3 separate regions of the Homo sapiens genome follow, and all the other regions are linked to region 1. Evidence: fine-mapped expression QTL. A gene starts in region 1. Each other region holds a variant in brackets. All regions are shown on one strand. Distances are between the middles of the regions.

Region 1 (5,097 bases):
CTTTTTTAATGTTGTCTTGAAAACACAGATGTTTCCCATTTTGATGAAGTTCAATCTGTCTTTTATTTCCTTTTTATGATTAGTGCTTTTTTCTACCTCCAAAATCTTCACCTTCCCCAAAGTCACAAAGATTGTTCTGTATTTTCTTAGAAATTATGTAATTATAGCTTCATGATTAGGTCTGTCATTCATTTCAACTTAATATTTATCTATGGTGTGAGGTAAGATTTATTTTTTGATATGGGTATCCAGTCATTTCATTTACTGAAAAGATTATATTTTCCACATGGAAATTACCTTAGCTTCTTATAAAAATCAATTGACCACATACATATGGGTCTATCCCTGGACTTGATTCTGTTTCACTGATTTCTATGTCTCACCTTATGTGTACCACAGTGTGTTGAAAACTAGTTTTATAGTAAGTCTTTAAACCAGATGTATATGTGCTCCAACTTTCTTCTTCCTATGTACCTCTGCATGAATTTTATAGTTAGCTTGTCAAGTTAAAAAAAAATCTGCTGGGATTTGGAGAGAATTGACATTTAACAGTATGGAGTCTTCCAATTCATGAACAGGCAACAGCTATTTATTTAGATCTTTCATTTCTCTCAGCAGAGATTTATAGTTTTGAGCAATGATTTATAATTTTCAGTGTATACGTCTCACACATATTTTGTGAAATTTATGCCTATATAGTTCATGTTTTTGGATGCTGATTAACGTTGTATGGTTTATTTTAAATTTCATTTTCCAGTTGTTCCGTGTACACATGTAGAAAAACAATTGATTTTTGTTATGTTGATCTTGTAGTTCCAGGAGGTTTTTTTTTTTTAGGATTCCTCGAGATTCCTGGGATTTTCTAGGAAACACATTGCTCTCATTTGCAAACAGTTTTACTTCTTTCTTCCCTTTATTTTATTTTTATTCTTTTTCGAAAAGAAGTCTCGCTCTGTCACCCAGGCTGGAGTGCAATGGGGCGATCTCAAATCACTGCAACCTGTGCCTCCTGGGTTCAAGCGATTCTCCTGCCTCAACTCCTGAGTAGCTGGGATTACAGGCGCCCGCCACCATGCCCCGCTAATTTTTGTATTTTTAGTAGAGACGGGGTTTCACCATGTTAGTCAGGCTGGCCTCAAACTCCTGACCTCAAGTGATCTGCCTACCTCGGCCTCCCAAAGTGCTAGGATTACAGGGGTGAGCCACCACACCCAGCCTTCCTTTCCTTTTTTTTTTATTTTTTTGAGACAGAGTCTCACTCTGTCGTCCAGGCTGGAGTGCAACGGGCGATCTCTGCTCACGATTTTTAAAAATTATTTCCACTAAGGAAACTGAGGCATGGATAGGTTACGTTGTCCAAGTTCACACAGCTAATAAAATGGGAGGATTCAGGAATTTGGGGGTTGTATTTCAGTAGGTGCAAGGAATTTCAAAAGGTAATGTCATCAGTTAAGGCAGGAACCGGCCACACTTCTTTAGTGATTCTTCAGTTACTTTAGGCCATCTGGATGTATACGTGCAGGTCACAGGGGATATAATGGCTTAGCTTGGGCTCAGAGGCCTGACACTTGGTAAATAGACACACACACAGACACACAGACACACAGACACACACACACACACACACACACGCTCCGGTAAAATTCACACAAGTGAGGCCGGGTGCGGTGGCTCACGCCTGTAATCCCAGCACTTTGGGAAGCCAAGGCGGGTGGATCACTTGAGGCCAGGAGTTCGGGACCAGCCTGGCAAACGTGGTGAAACCGTCTCTACTAAAAATAACAAAAATTAGCCGGGCGTGGTGGTGCATGACTGTAGTTCCAGCTACTCGGGAGGCTGAGGCAGGAGAATCTCTTGAATCAGGGAGGCGGAGGTTGCAGTGAGCCGAGATCACAACACTGCACTCCAGACTGTAAAAAAAAAAAAAAATAAGAAATGAAAAAGGAAAAAAAAATCACTCAAGTGGGACGGTCTTCTCACTGTTGGAAGACCTGTTGGACTCGCTAGTAAACGGGAAACAGGGCGAAATAGGCGTTTCTTCCCCAGAAGCTCTTAAGAATGAATGAATGTTTGGCCCAGCGCTGTGGCTCAGGCTTGTAATCACAGAACTTTGGAAGGCAGAGGTGGGAAGATTGCTTGAGCTCACGAAATTGCAGTGAGCTATGTTCACGTCACTGCCCTCCAGCCTAGGAGACAGACTGAGACCGCATCTCTAAAAAGAAAAGAATGAGTGGCGGGAAGATCCCGCTCCCTGCCTGCGTATTGAGAAACTGCCTTACAAAAGGCCAGGCAGGGCAGAGCCACGCCAAGTTCAGGTGCGTTCCCTGTGTCCCCACTAAATGCACTCGCAGGGTGCGCATCGCCAGGGCGCAAGGCGTCTGGGCGTCTCTCTATGAAGAGGCGCCCGCAGCTAGCGAGGCGGGTGCACTTTCCTCGGGAGCGGAAACTACAGCGCCGCCTGGAAAGCGTGCCGGGGCTCGCGGGTCCTGGATCCCCAGTGCCAGGGCCAGGCGTTCTGGCCCCCGAGTGGCGCGCGCTCCCAAGGGGCGGGGCGGGGCGGGGGCGTGACGGGCGGTGGCCGGGGGCGTCCGCTCCTCCCCCTCGCGGTCGGTAGAGCTGGCTGCGCCGAGCCCCCTGCGCGCTGCACATGGGGCGCCTGACGGAAGCGGCGGCAGCGGGCAGCGGCTCTCGGGCTGCAGGCTGGGCAGGGTCCCCTCCCACGCTCCTGCCGCTGTCTCCCACGTCCCCCAGGTGCGCGGCCACCATGGCGTCCAGCGACGAGGACGGCACCAACGGCGGCGCCTCGGAGGCCGGCGAGGACCGGGAGGCTCCCGGCGAGCGGAGGCGCCTGGGGGTCTTGGCCACCGCCTGGCTCACCTTCTACGACATCGCCATGACCGCGGGGTACGCGCGCCGCGGGGCACCCTCGGGCCCTCCCCGCGCCGCGGTCCGCGGAGGTTCCGGGTTCAGGGGGCGCGGGCCGGGGTGTAAGGGGCGCGGGGGGTGCGGGCAGCGGCCGTGGGGGAAGGGAGCTGTCGCCGCGGCCACCGCCGGGGTTGAATGGAGCGGGCGGGGGGGCCGGGCCCTGCGCGCCTGGCATTGCCTAATACGGTGCACGGCGGGGCGCTGGCCGGAGGTTAAGTATAGAACCGGGCAGGAATGCGGTGCCGGCCCGCGGGGGAGGTGGCTGCTGCCCCGGCGCCGCTGCCTTCGCTGCTGTTGAAGGAGCGCCCAGCCCTGGCCACTCGATGGTCTCGGGAGCGCAGAGCTTCATGCTGCGATCGCTGGGCAGAGTTTTCGCCCCTGTTAATTTCACCGCGACTTTTTTTTTTTTTTTTTTTTAAAGCACAGCACGTCCTAGAGCTTGTCACTTGGGACGATTTTGAAATAACCACCCCACTTATCCCAGCGTGGAGCTCCTGCCCAGCATCTTTATGGCCTCAGGCTCCGTGGCTGATAAGCTGGACCTTGATTTTTGGCTTTGAGTATGACTTTGCAAGTTAAGGTTACACAATGACTGTCGCTCTTCGCAGAGCTCTCAAAGTGACTTTTGTGTCAACTGCTTCTCAAAACCTGTTGGGAAAATGCTTTTCCATTTCTCAATTGCACTGCCTTTTAAAAAAGTTATTTTCCCATTATCACTCGAAGTATTAACTTATGTAAACGCGAGGAAAAGTTTACTATTTTCTTTTTTTCTTTTTATTATTTATTTATTTATTTTGAGACGGAGTCTCGCTCGGTCTTGGCTGGAGTGCAGTGGCGGGATCTCGGCTCACTACAAGCTCCGCCTCCCGGGTTCATGCCTTTCTTCTGCCTCAGCCTCCCGAGTAGCTGGGACTACAGGCGCCCGCCACCACGCCTGGCTAATTTTTTTGTATTTTTAGTAGAGACGGGGTTTCACCATGTTAGCCAGGATGGTCTCCATCTCCTGACCTCATGATCCGCCCGCCTCGGCCTCCCAAAGTGCTGGGATTACAAGCGTGAGCCATCCCGCCCTGACAGTATTTTATTTTATTTTTTAGACGGAGACTCATTCTGTCGCCCAGGCTGGAGTGCATTGGCGCGATCTCCGCTCACTGCCAACCTCAGCCTCCGGAGTTCAAGCGATTCTCCTGCCTCGGCCTCCGGAGTAGCTGGGACTACAAGCGTGGGCCACCACGCCCCATTAATTTTTGTATTTTTGGTAGAGACAGGGTATCACCATGTTGGCCAGGGTGGTCTCGAACTCCTGACCTCAAATGATTCCCCCACTTCGGCCTCCCAATGTGCTGGGATTACAGGTGTGAGCCATCGCACCGGGCCTAATATTTTATTTTAATTTTTTAAAAATAGAGATGGCCTCTCACTGTGTTGGCTAGGCTGGTCTCAAACTCCCGGCCTCAAGCAATCCTCCCACCTCAACCTCCAAAAGTGCTGGGATTACCACTTCCGGCTTAATATTTTAAACTTTCTCCAGGGTTTATAGAAAAATGTGATTGACAAAAATTTAATAAATCTTTACCTATGGTGATTGAGTTTCTATTATGTGCTTAGCATATGATATTGAATGCCAAATACAGTTCATACAAATGTTATTTACTGAGGACTTACTATGCAGGGGACTGTGTTGGTTATTTTAGGTGTATTTTTAGTCCTTTAAAGTCCTGTGAGGGGCACATGATATTACATTATATAGATTAGAAGAGTGAGGCACAGATACTTGCCCAAGATCACAGCCAGCAAGTGTCAGTCAGACATGGGTTTCAACCCGGACTCTCTGACTCCACTGTCCTGCTACTTCATCTTTCTTTCCTCCTAAATTATACTCTTGGAAAGTGAGAAAACTAATGTATTTACAACAATTCAGCAATCACGAAATGATGCTGCCTTTAAATGCATTCGGAACTGAAAGAATTCTCTCACCTCTGTGATAGTCTGGTTAATAAACGTTTCCGGAGCCGGGCGCGGTGGCTCACGCCTGTAATCCCAGCACTTTGGAAGGCCGAGGTGGGCGGATCACGAGGTCAGGAGATCGAGAACATCTTGGCTAACACGGCGAAACCCCGTCTCTACTAAAAATACAAAAAATTAGCCGGGCGCCATGGCGGGCGCCTATAG
Region 2 (5,097 bases), 60 kb before region 1:
AAAGAAAAGAAACTGACTTAAGAAGAAACAGAAAATCTGAATAGACCTATGTAACAAGTAAAAAGACTAAATTACTGATTAAGAAAACTTCCCACGAAGAAAATCTCAGAAACAGAAAGCTTCACTGGTGAATTCTACCAAATGTTTAAAAATTAACATCAACACTTCATTTAAAAAAAAAAAACACACGCAAATTAAACATCAAAATTAAAAGTTTTTGTGCATTAAGGGATACCATCAATAAAGAAAAGTCAACCCACAGAATGGGAGAAAATATTTCCAAATCATATATATGACAAGAGATTAACAGCCAGAATATATAAAGAACTCCTACATCTCAACAACGAACAACAACCCAATTCAAAAATGGGCAAAGGACTTGAATAGACATTTCTCCAAGTAAGATACACAAAGGGCCAATAAGCACATAACAAATGCTCAACATCGCTAGCAATTAGGGAGATGCAAATCAAAACCACATTGAGATGCCACTTCACACTCACTAGGCTGGCTATTTTTTTAAGAAAGGAAAGATACCAAATATTGGAGGGGATGTAGTGAAATTAGAACCCTTGTACATTGCCGGTGGGAATGTAAAATGGTGTAGCTACTGTGAAAAGTGTGGTAGTTCCTCAAAAAATTAAGCATAACCACATATAATCCAGCTGGGACTCTAACCAATATCCGTACACCCATGTTCAGAGTAGTATTAATAGTATTCACAACAGCCAAATGTCCATCAACGAAAGAATGGATAAACAAAATGTGATATACAATGGAATAGTATTCAGCCTTAAGGAAATTCTGACACATGCTATATACAACATGGATGGACCTTGAAAACATTATGCTAAGTGAAATAAGTCTGACACAAAAGCACAAAAAATTCTATGTTTCCACTTCCATGAGGTATCTAGAATAGACAAATTCATAAAGATAGAACATAGAAAAAAGTAACTAGTGGCTAGGAGGGGAAATGGACAGCCATTATTTCAAAGGTGTAGAGTTTCTACGTGGGATGATGAAAAAGTTCTGAAAATGGATAGTGGTGTTGGTTGCATAATACTGTGAATGTACTAAATACCACTGAATTATACACTTAAAAATGATTTAAATAGTAAACTTTATGTTAAATATATTTTACCAAAATAAAATAAGTACTAATACAAGCTACAACATAAACGAACCTCAGAAGAATTACACTACATGAGGTTGGGCGTGGTGACTCACGCCTATAATCCCAGCACTTTGGGAGGCCGAGGCAGGCGGATCACCTGAGATCAGGAGTTCGAGACCAGCCTGGCCAACATGGTGAAACCTCATCTCTACTACAAATACAAAAACTTAGCCAGGCACAGTGGCATGTACCCCATCCAAGCTACCCAGGAGGCTGAGGCAGGAGAATCGCTTGAACCTGGGAGGTGCAGGTTACAGTGAACTGAGATTGTGCCGCTGCATTCTAGCCTGGGCAACACAGCGAGACTCTGTCTTCCAAAAAAAAAATTACACCACATGAAGAAAGTTGATCACAAAAGAACATGTATTGCAGAGCTCCATTTATATGAAATGTCTACAACAGGCAAATCCACACAGATAGAAAGTAGATTAGTGGTTTCCAGGAATGAGGAGAGGTGGGAATGGGAGTGACTGCTAATGAGTACAGCTTTCTTTTTGGGATGATGATTGTTCAGGAATTAGATACTGTTGCACAAACTTATGAACATATTAAAACCCACTGAATTGTATATTCTAAAATGGTAAATTTGATGGTATGTGAAATATATATGTATTTATAAAAGTAAAAACTTTTATCGGGCAATTTGAACTCCAATGAGCCCTGGAAAGCAAAGCAATATGCTTAAGTATAATTAGTTAGCACTGTAATAAATACAAAAAAATCCTTTTTAATAATTATATAGAAAAATTAGGATACAAGGTAGGATTCCTGATTTTAAGGATGCTCAACTGCCTGTGAGGCTGCTTCCACCTAAAGAGCATGGTGAAGGGAGAAACAACACACAAAAGAACTAATATTGACTGAATGTCTATTATGTGCCAAGCATTCAATTTTTTTAATCCTAAAACTTTTTTCTTCTACTTTACTGATTTTGTAAGAGATTAAAATTTTTGGATAGCAGCATCATTAGACTGAAGAAATTATGTACTTTAACACTATTATTTAGATTTTGCCTTTTTCACAGTTGGACTTATTTTAGGAGCCAGGGTCCGTGACCCCATACTGACTTGCAGTTGTGAATACCATGCCGACATAAAAACACAAAACAATCATTTCAATGCATGGTAAAGGCCAGATATAAAGAATTATTTGAATACTAAAATTAAAATCAGTAAAAAATAATCTAAAGATGATTCAGCTCAATATTTTAGAAAATAATCCTGTATACTTTCTTTACCAAATGTTAAATAAAATTGATTATGTATTTTGTTTATAAACCACTTTTTTTTAAGGTAGGAAACCTAAACTGTGACTTTTGGAAAGGATGGTGGGGAAAGGGGTGTTGAAATGAAACTATTCCTTTTTATTTTAGACATTCCTATGTTGTTTTACCACAGCCAATTGTAAAAACCAAAGCAAAGATATCTCTGGCACCAAAATAAAATTGGCTACTGAACCATTAAAAGGACAGAGCTGCAAAGCCAGTAAGAATGAAGCGCTGATGAACACCTTGTTTGTGCAAACACAGCAGTATCTTTTTACATACTAGCTTAAAAATCCCTTCAGAACTGTCTACAAAACAGAACTTAACCACTATTATGAACTGTTTCATTCTGTCCTATGCATTTTTAATTCAGTTTTTAGTATTTCCACCAGATAGGTAATACTGAACTTTTATATATATATATATGTATAATTATTAAATCTTACCAAGTAATTAAAAGTATGGTTAAAACACTACTTTTTAAAAAGGTTTGGGGATTATAAGTGAATTTAACGTGAGTATACTTCTGGCTATTATCCTTCCAATGACAAATGAAAGTTGATTACAAGCATGGTGTCTATATAATTCATTCTCTATGGCAGTACCCTTTCGCGAGTGAAAG[A/G]TGGTGTTAACTGGACATAACAGAGGAACAGCAGGCATAAACTACAATTGTCCAAGGCAAATTGGATGTTATGGTCACAACAGCCAAAACTATGTTCATCCACAAAATCATCTTTTTATGAATAGATCTGGGTCATATAGTTCGTAAGAGGGTAAAAGAAAAGGGGGCAGTATTTCTATACCGTTGCAGCTTCCAATGTCTTTTTCTCAAATCACAGACCAGACAAAGAACAGACTTTGCAGGAATGTACATAACTGCCTACATATGTCAGCTGATGAACTGAAAGCATCAAATTCAATTTCATTATTTACCAGTATTACTCCTATCTCAACAAACTGCACTGTCAGATTCAAAGAAAGGAGATTTAAGATGGAGCTCCTCTCTATCACATCCTCCCTATACCCACTCCTGCCCCATTATACCACTCTCAACCATTCAGTTTCTAGGTGAAGTCATAACTATTAAAAATAAGTCAGCTCATGCCTGGAAGTAAATGAAAATTAAGTCGTGAACCTTCCTTAATCAATCAATCTTCACACACAAATATCCAAACTGTGCTACTGTGCTTTCTTTTGCAATAGACCTTTCTAATTTCCCAAACAAAACACAAACTCTGCAGAACTTGAAGCTCTTAGGGCAAATGTGCAAAGGACAGATTTTTTTTTTAATGAATTCTATCAGCAGTCACTTCTCTGATCTAATGGTAAATTAAGAAAACTTCTCATTTTTGCCCATTCATCGTGTTGGAAGTACTCAGATAATCTGATTCCACCACATGGAGTGCTATTTGTAGGTATCAGTGCAAAAGGATACCGGCCCTTTGGATTAATCTAATTAGGTAAGCAAGACTTTCAGGGTGAATCACCGCCATAAAAATTAGAGAGTCACTGTTAAAAAAAAATTCAATAGGTACCAAAGAACTCTGTTAATAATACTTTCCATAACTAACGTTCATTAATTACCTTCTAGGTGACAAGCATTATGCAAGGCTTTAGGAATAAAGTAGTGAACAAGAAGAGACTGACCCTGCTTCATGAAGTTCATAGTCTAGCCTAGTGTTTTTTTCTAAAACTTAAGTGAATCCCTGTATAAGTTAAAACTGTGACATAAACATAGTTGTCCAAACTTTATATAAACTACAATATCATGTTTAAAACCATCAATTTCAGAAAACGCTACTATCTTTTTTTTTTTTTTGAGACAGAGTCTCACTCTGTCTCCCAGCCTGGAATGCAGTGGTGCGATCTCAGTTCACTGCAACCTCCACTTCCCGGGTTCAAGCAATTCTCCCACCTCAGCCTTCCAAGTAGCTGAGATAACAGGCAGGCACTACCATACTCAGCTGATTTTTTTATTTTTAGTGGAGACAGGGTTTCACCACATTGGCCAGGCTGGTCTCAAACTCCTGACCTCAGGTGATCCACCCACCTTGGCCTCCCAAAGGGCTGGAATTACAGGCGTAAGCCACGTGCCCAGCCAAAAAATGCTATTATCTTTAATTAGGCTTTTATGAATGTTCATAAACTAAAAGCTGTATCAGGCCATGTGTCTAAAACCAAGCGATGAAAAGGCACCATGAAAGAAAATCTTCATGACTACCTAATCAGTTAAGATTCCCTATCTGTCAGCTGTTCATATTTATAAATACACACAAATGGGTACATCTTTCAACACAGAACAATTTTTTCCATGTCAAAAGTCATAATTAAATGTTAGATTTAAAAATGAAGAAACCCTTGTATCACATTTTGTCATTCCATTCTTAAGGATTGAGTGTCTCAAGTATCAAAAGTGGAATTTATAATTTTGTTTATTAGAATTATTTTTTCCTAATGGTATTTTTCATTGTTTTGTTAAGTTCAAAGTTCTGATTCAACACTTATGGAACTAACAGGCCTCAGGCAAATTATGTATTCCAAAGATAACTATGATAATAATTCCTTTGACATGAACTTACCATTTCCCTTCAAGAGGTGACATCTAACAACCCTCCCCTTGAACCTGGACTGACTTCAGTGACTTGCTTGACCAATA
Region 3 (5,097 bases), 52 kb before region 1:
GGTATTTCCATTGCTATATAGGAGGAAGCCAAGAATATTTAAAGCTATTGTTGGAAAAAGGAGTCAAGATTTGTGACATCCTATGCTGTATAAAACTTTTGAAAATTCTCCTATTTCAAATAGCTCTATATCTCAGTTGAAAAGTACTTTTTAGTATCATAAAAACCATATGCCGAGCAGTGACAGGAAGATTGTATACTCTAAAGGAAATTATTGTCATTGAAAAGACAGTAAATTTAAATTCTAATTCCTGTATATATTACTAAATTAATAAATGATTTTTAGACCAATCAACTTTTCAAAATGAGGATATCACCTCTTCATTATCCCTCTCTCAGGACATAACAAAATAACAGGGTATTTGCCTAAAAGTATTGCAAATATAAAAGAAAAATGATCAAAACAAAAATTATCAATAGCAATAATAAAAAACATGGTTAACAAATATGTTTGCATGGTTAACCTCTAATAACCTATGTCAGACTAAAAACGTACAAGGACACTAGTGAAAGACTATCTGGCATGTTGCATCCCTGATCCCTGCTAGTTACTACATCAGTAACATCAGTAGTAACCCGCCTGTCATGGGACACCTGAAACCATCCCTAATGGAGCAATACCACCCAGGCTGAAAACCATTACTAAACAAAAGAAGCATTGTGATACAGTAGAAAAACGATTTGAAGCTTTGACAGACCTCATCTGTAAAAGAGGAGATGTCTAATACCTCCTTATCAGAATGTTAATACAAAACTCCTAGACTCATGCCAGGGATTTAGAGACTCTCAACAATGTTAGTTCTTGAAAGCACAAAAATGTTTCATTTTTTATCTTTGCTTTTACAACTGTAGCTTTCAAAGTTATTTTAGAGTGATTTAAACATTACATCTTCATCTAAAATGCTACAAAAAAAGCTTTACTGTGGTTTACCATTCAAGGACATATGTACGTCTATATTGGAGGAAGGAGGAGTATGTGCATGCATAGCTTTTATAGGTCTTAGTATACCAGGACCTAGCAGACACACAGCAGCTAAAAGACATGGGAACTCAAATCTTTGCTGAATGAACTAAATATTTTTAGAAATTAAGAGATAATATGAATGCTCCTTGAATACTGAGTAGAGCCTTATTTAGATGCCTTTCATAAGCATGAAGGCATGTCACAGACTGTAAGAGAATTCTAATATAAAAGTACAAAAGAAATCACAACAGAAATAATGCAATCTTTATATACTGAACATATTCAAAATGCAAATTTGATTTGTAACATACATTACATAAAACATAATCCACACAACATATAAAAGGAGCAAAATATAGAGTACAAATATCAAATTATTCCCTTAATGTTAAGCTTATTAAGTAGGCATTTCTTATGAGATAATGGAACGTGAATATAAATATATACAGTGATGTTATTTGACTATTATTTAACAAACATGTTCATGTAAGTCCCAAAGGACTTCATTAGAAAAGCAGATAAACTAAACTTCTACATGCTGAACTAAAATATTGAGGATTAAATTCAGTACGATGATATTTTGAGTTTTCTAGACCATGTAACACTAAGGTATATTTCAGTCAAACAAAACACAATGTAACATAACGTATGGGGAGAGAGGAATCACCAAAAACTTTAATGTAAGATTGGTATGTCTTGATTCATAATTTTAACCTTCAAATATAACTGCTCATACAAGCACCTAAGCACACAGCACAGTGAAGGTAGAAAAAAACATAAAATGGGAAGTAAAGAAATCTGACTTCTAATTTTGCCTCTGCTCACTCGTTTTAGACAAGTCACATTAAAAATCTCAGGGCTTTAGTTTTCTCATCTGCAAAACAAGCACAACAGTCATCAGAATTCTATAAGTCTCATTCTATAAAATATACGATGTTTTTAAGACTTAGTAAAATAAAAAAGTAAAATCATTGTCTAGGCAAGTAAAGATAGAAAAATCAGCTCGCATCGGATCCCATTCCCTATTGCCTAGTCAACAACTTGACTTCTGTTGTTATCCCAATTCTCTCCTGAATCATCATCTCAATTTCCCCCTCAAAGTGCATCATTCTCTTCCAGATACACAGATGCTATAATCCCGTCTACCCTTTAAGAAGGGAAATTCCCAGCTGGGCGCAGTGGCTCACGCCTGTGATCCCAGCACTTTGGGAGGCCGAGATGGGCGGATCACGAAGTCAGGAGATCGAGACCATCCTGGCTAACATGGTGAAACCACGTGTCTACTAAAAATACAAAAAAAAAAAAAAAAAAAGAAAAGAAAAGAATTGGCCGGGCATAGGGCATAGGGGCGGGTGCCTGTAGTCCCAGCTACTGGGGAGGCTGAGGCAGGAGAACGGTGTGAACCTGGGAGGCGGCATTTGCGGTGAGCTGAGATTGCGCCACTGCACTACAGCCTGGGTGACAGAGCGAGACTCCATCTCAGAAAAAAAAAAAAAGAAAGAAAGAAAAAGAAGGGAAATTCCCAATCAGTGAAAGAAAAACCCCACTGAAACAGCAGCAAAAAGGACAAAATACCTCAGACGAAACATTACAAAAAATGTACAAGACTTTTAAGAGGAAAACTTAAAAACACTACTAAAGGTTATAAACAAAAAGAGATGCTATGTTCTCGGATAGGAAGATTTAATATCATAAAGACATAAATTTGTTAATTTAAAACTAGGCCAATTTAAACAGAAAGTTTTGTTTTTAACCCAG[C/T]CAACTCAATTTGAAAGTTTATTTAATGAGAGTAGGAAGGGGAAAGAATATCTAAAACAACATTTCCGGAAAAAAAAAAAAAAACCTCAAGACCATATCCTACCAAATGTCAAAACATATTAATAATTAAAACCATGTGGTAGCAGAATGTGTTTAGACACATACCAACGGGTCAAAAGAGAAAAACAGACTTAAATACATATGCAAATATAATATATAAAAGAAATATTTCAAATCAGAAGAAAAAAAGATGGACGATTCAGTAAATGGTGTTGGGATATTTGGTAGCCAAATAGAAAAGAATAAAGTTAGAACCATACTTCATACTGCCTAACAGGATAAATTCCAAATAGATCAAAGACTTGAATGTAAAAAACAAAACCATACTGAGACTGTGGGGACAGTCTGGTGGCTTCTAACAAAGATAAACAGTCTTACCATATGATCTAGCAATCATGTTCTCACATATTTACCCAACTGAACTTAAAACGATGTCAACACAAAAGGCTGCAAATTCATGTTTATAGCAGCTTTATTAAAAATCACCAAAACTGGGAGCCAACAAGATGTCCTTCAGTAGGTTAATAAACAAACTGTAGAACATCCATATAATGGAAGAGTATTCAGCAATAAGAAGAAATGAACTACTGAGCCACGAAAAGGCACGTAGGAACCTTAAATGCATACTGGTAAGTGAAAGATGCCAGTCTGAAAAGGCTATATAGTCTACGATCCCAATTACACAACATTTGGAAAAGATAAACTTGTAAACAGTAAAAAGATCAGTGGCTGTTTAAAGTGCAAAGAGAGGAAGGAAAGGAATGAACAGATGGAGCACAGGTCATTTTAAGGTGATAAAACTATTCAGCATGGTACTGTAATGACAGATACGTGGCATTACACAATGGTAGACACATGTCATTATATACACTGTCAAAACCCATTGACCTGTACAAAACAAAGTGTACCTTAATGCAAACTATGGACTTTAGTTAATAGTAATGTATCAATATTGGTTCATATCTTGTAACAAATATATACACTAATGAAATATGTGAATAATTGGGGAAATTGTGTCGGAGTTGACCTCTGTACTATCTGTTCAATATGCATTATGCTAAGCAATGTGCATTCATTTCCCTTGCCTCTTCCAAACCACTCTCCCTCTTTCCTAAAACTGCCCAGCTCCAATCACGTCAGTCCCCTCATGTTGCAGTTTATTTAAAAATCTCAAATGCCCCTTCACCTGTCAATTATTTTAGCTACTGGATCACTGCCTCTCTCTCCAACATCACTCCTGTCCTAATTCTTGGAGCTTTTAATAACAGTGTAAGTGATGCTTTCAACACTTTGGCTTTTCAACTTCTATCACATCTTATTAACTCCGATGGACCTTGGAGTCATCAGACCTTGTCATTACCAATAACTGAAAACCCTCTATAGTTTTAATTTAAAGGATCCTACCTTCCAACCATCATCTTCTATTTTTCTAACTCACTCTGAAACCCAGCTCTGCGCTCATTCAGGGCAACTGACTTCTGCTCCAGCTACTCTGTAACTTTCAAGTTCTTAGAAGGCATCAAGTTTTCTCTACCTTGTAGCATTCAGCATTCACCTACAGACTATTGCTTCTTTCTGGGATGCAGTGCTTTGAACTCTGTCTCTTTTCAACATTAAAATTATAGCATAAACGTAACCCCCTCATACCAGTCTACCTTTTTATTTTCCATTATAGCACTCTGGTTACTAGCTTCTTAGCTATTGACCATCATCTGTTAGTATCTGTTTATTTCACATCTTCCACCATTAGAATATTAGCACCATTGACGGCAAAGGCTATGCCTGCTTTATTCACCACTGTATAGCCAAAGCATGATATTTGGCATTCAGTATTTGACAAATAAAAGAAAAAATGACGAACGCAAAGAGAATGAAACGAATTAAAGAAATTCTGCCATGTTACGAAACTGAGTGAAACATGGAAATCAAGATCACGTTTTAAAAAAAAAATTCTATGGGCTGGATGCGGTGGCTCACGCCTGTAATACCAGCACTTTGGGAGGCTGAGGAGGGCAGATCACAAGGTGAGGGGTTCAAGGCCACCTGACCAATACGTTGAAACCCCATGTCTACTAAAAATACAAAATAGCCGGGCATGGTGGCGTTCACCTGTAATCCCAGCTACTTAGGAGACTGAGACAGGAGAATCGCTTGAACTTGGGAGGCAGAAGTTGCAGTGAGCTGAGATCGCACCATCGCACTCCAGCCTGGGCAACAAAAGTGAAACTCTGTCTCAAAAAAAAAAAAAAATTATTTAACTCTGCTGGAACACTTCCGCTATTTTAAGTTATATAAAAGAATCCTAAATATCAATTA

Direction of the effects. Positions count from the first base shown, and alleles are read on the strand shown. Sizes are in standard deviations (SD) of each study's normalised expression. Not every link is listed here.
For the expression in follicular helper T cells of the gene that starts at base 2,613 in region 1, allele A in region 2 goes with a higher level than allele G (large effect, 0.80 SD a copy in Schmiedel 2018).

The links. PIP is the estimated chance that this variant, and not a neighbour inherited with it, causes the effect. A credible set is the group of variants that fine-mapping cannot tell apart.
Region 2: its variant is the best candidate, but not a certain one, in a credible set for the expression of HACD1 in follicular helper T cells (Schmiedel 2018, PIP 0.76).
Region 3: its variant is the best candidate, but not a certain one, in a credible set for the expression of HACD1 in whole blood (TOPMed, PIP 0.82).

Annotation. Positions count from the first base shown.
Region 1 is chr10:17,614,890-17,619,986 of GRCh38, reverse strand. It overlaps HACD1 (3-hydroxyacyl-CoA dehydratase 1), which reads left to right and starts at 2,613. Exons shown (of 7, transcript NM_014241.4): 1 at 2,613-2,904. The coding sequence starts at 2,648. RefSeq lists a silencer at 2,413-3,072.
Region 2 is chr10:17,674,667-17,679,763 of GRCh38, reverse strand. All of the region lies in intron 2 of STAM (signal transducing adaptor molecule), which reads right to left. Among named protein-coding and RNA genes, the nearest start is that of STAM, 33 kb to the right of the region's middle. The variant A/G (reference allele first, on the strand shown) is at 3,064.
Region 3 is chr10:17,667,063-17,672,159 of GRCh38, reverse strand. The region is part of intron 2 of STAM (signal transducing adaptor molecule); the gene reads right to left. Among named protein-coding and RNA genes, the nearest start is that of STAM, 25 kb to the right of the region's middle. RefSeq lists an enhancer at 317-1,071. The variant C/T (reference allele first, on the strand shown) is at 2,722.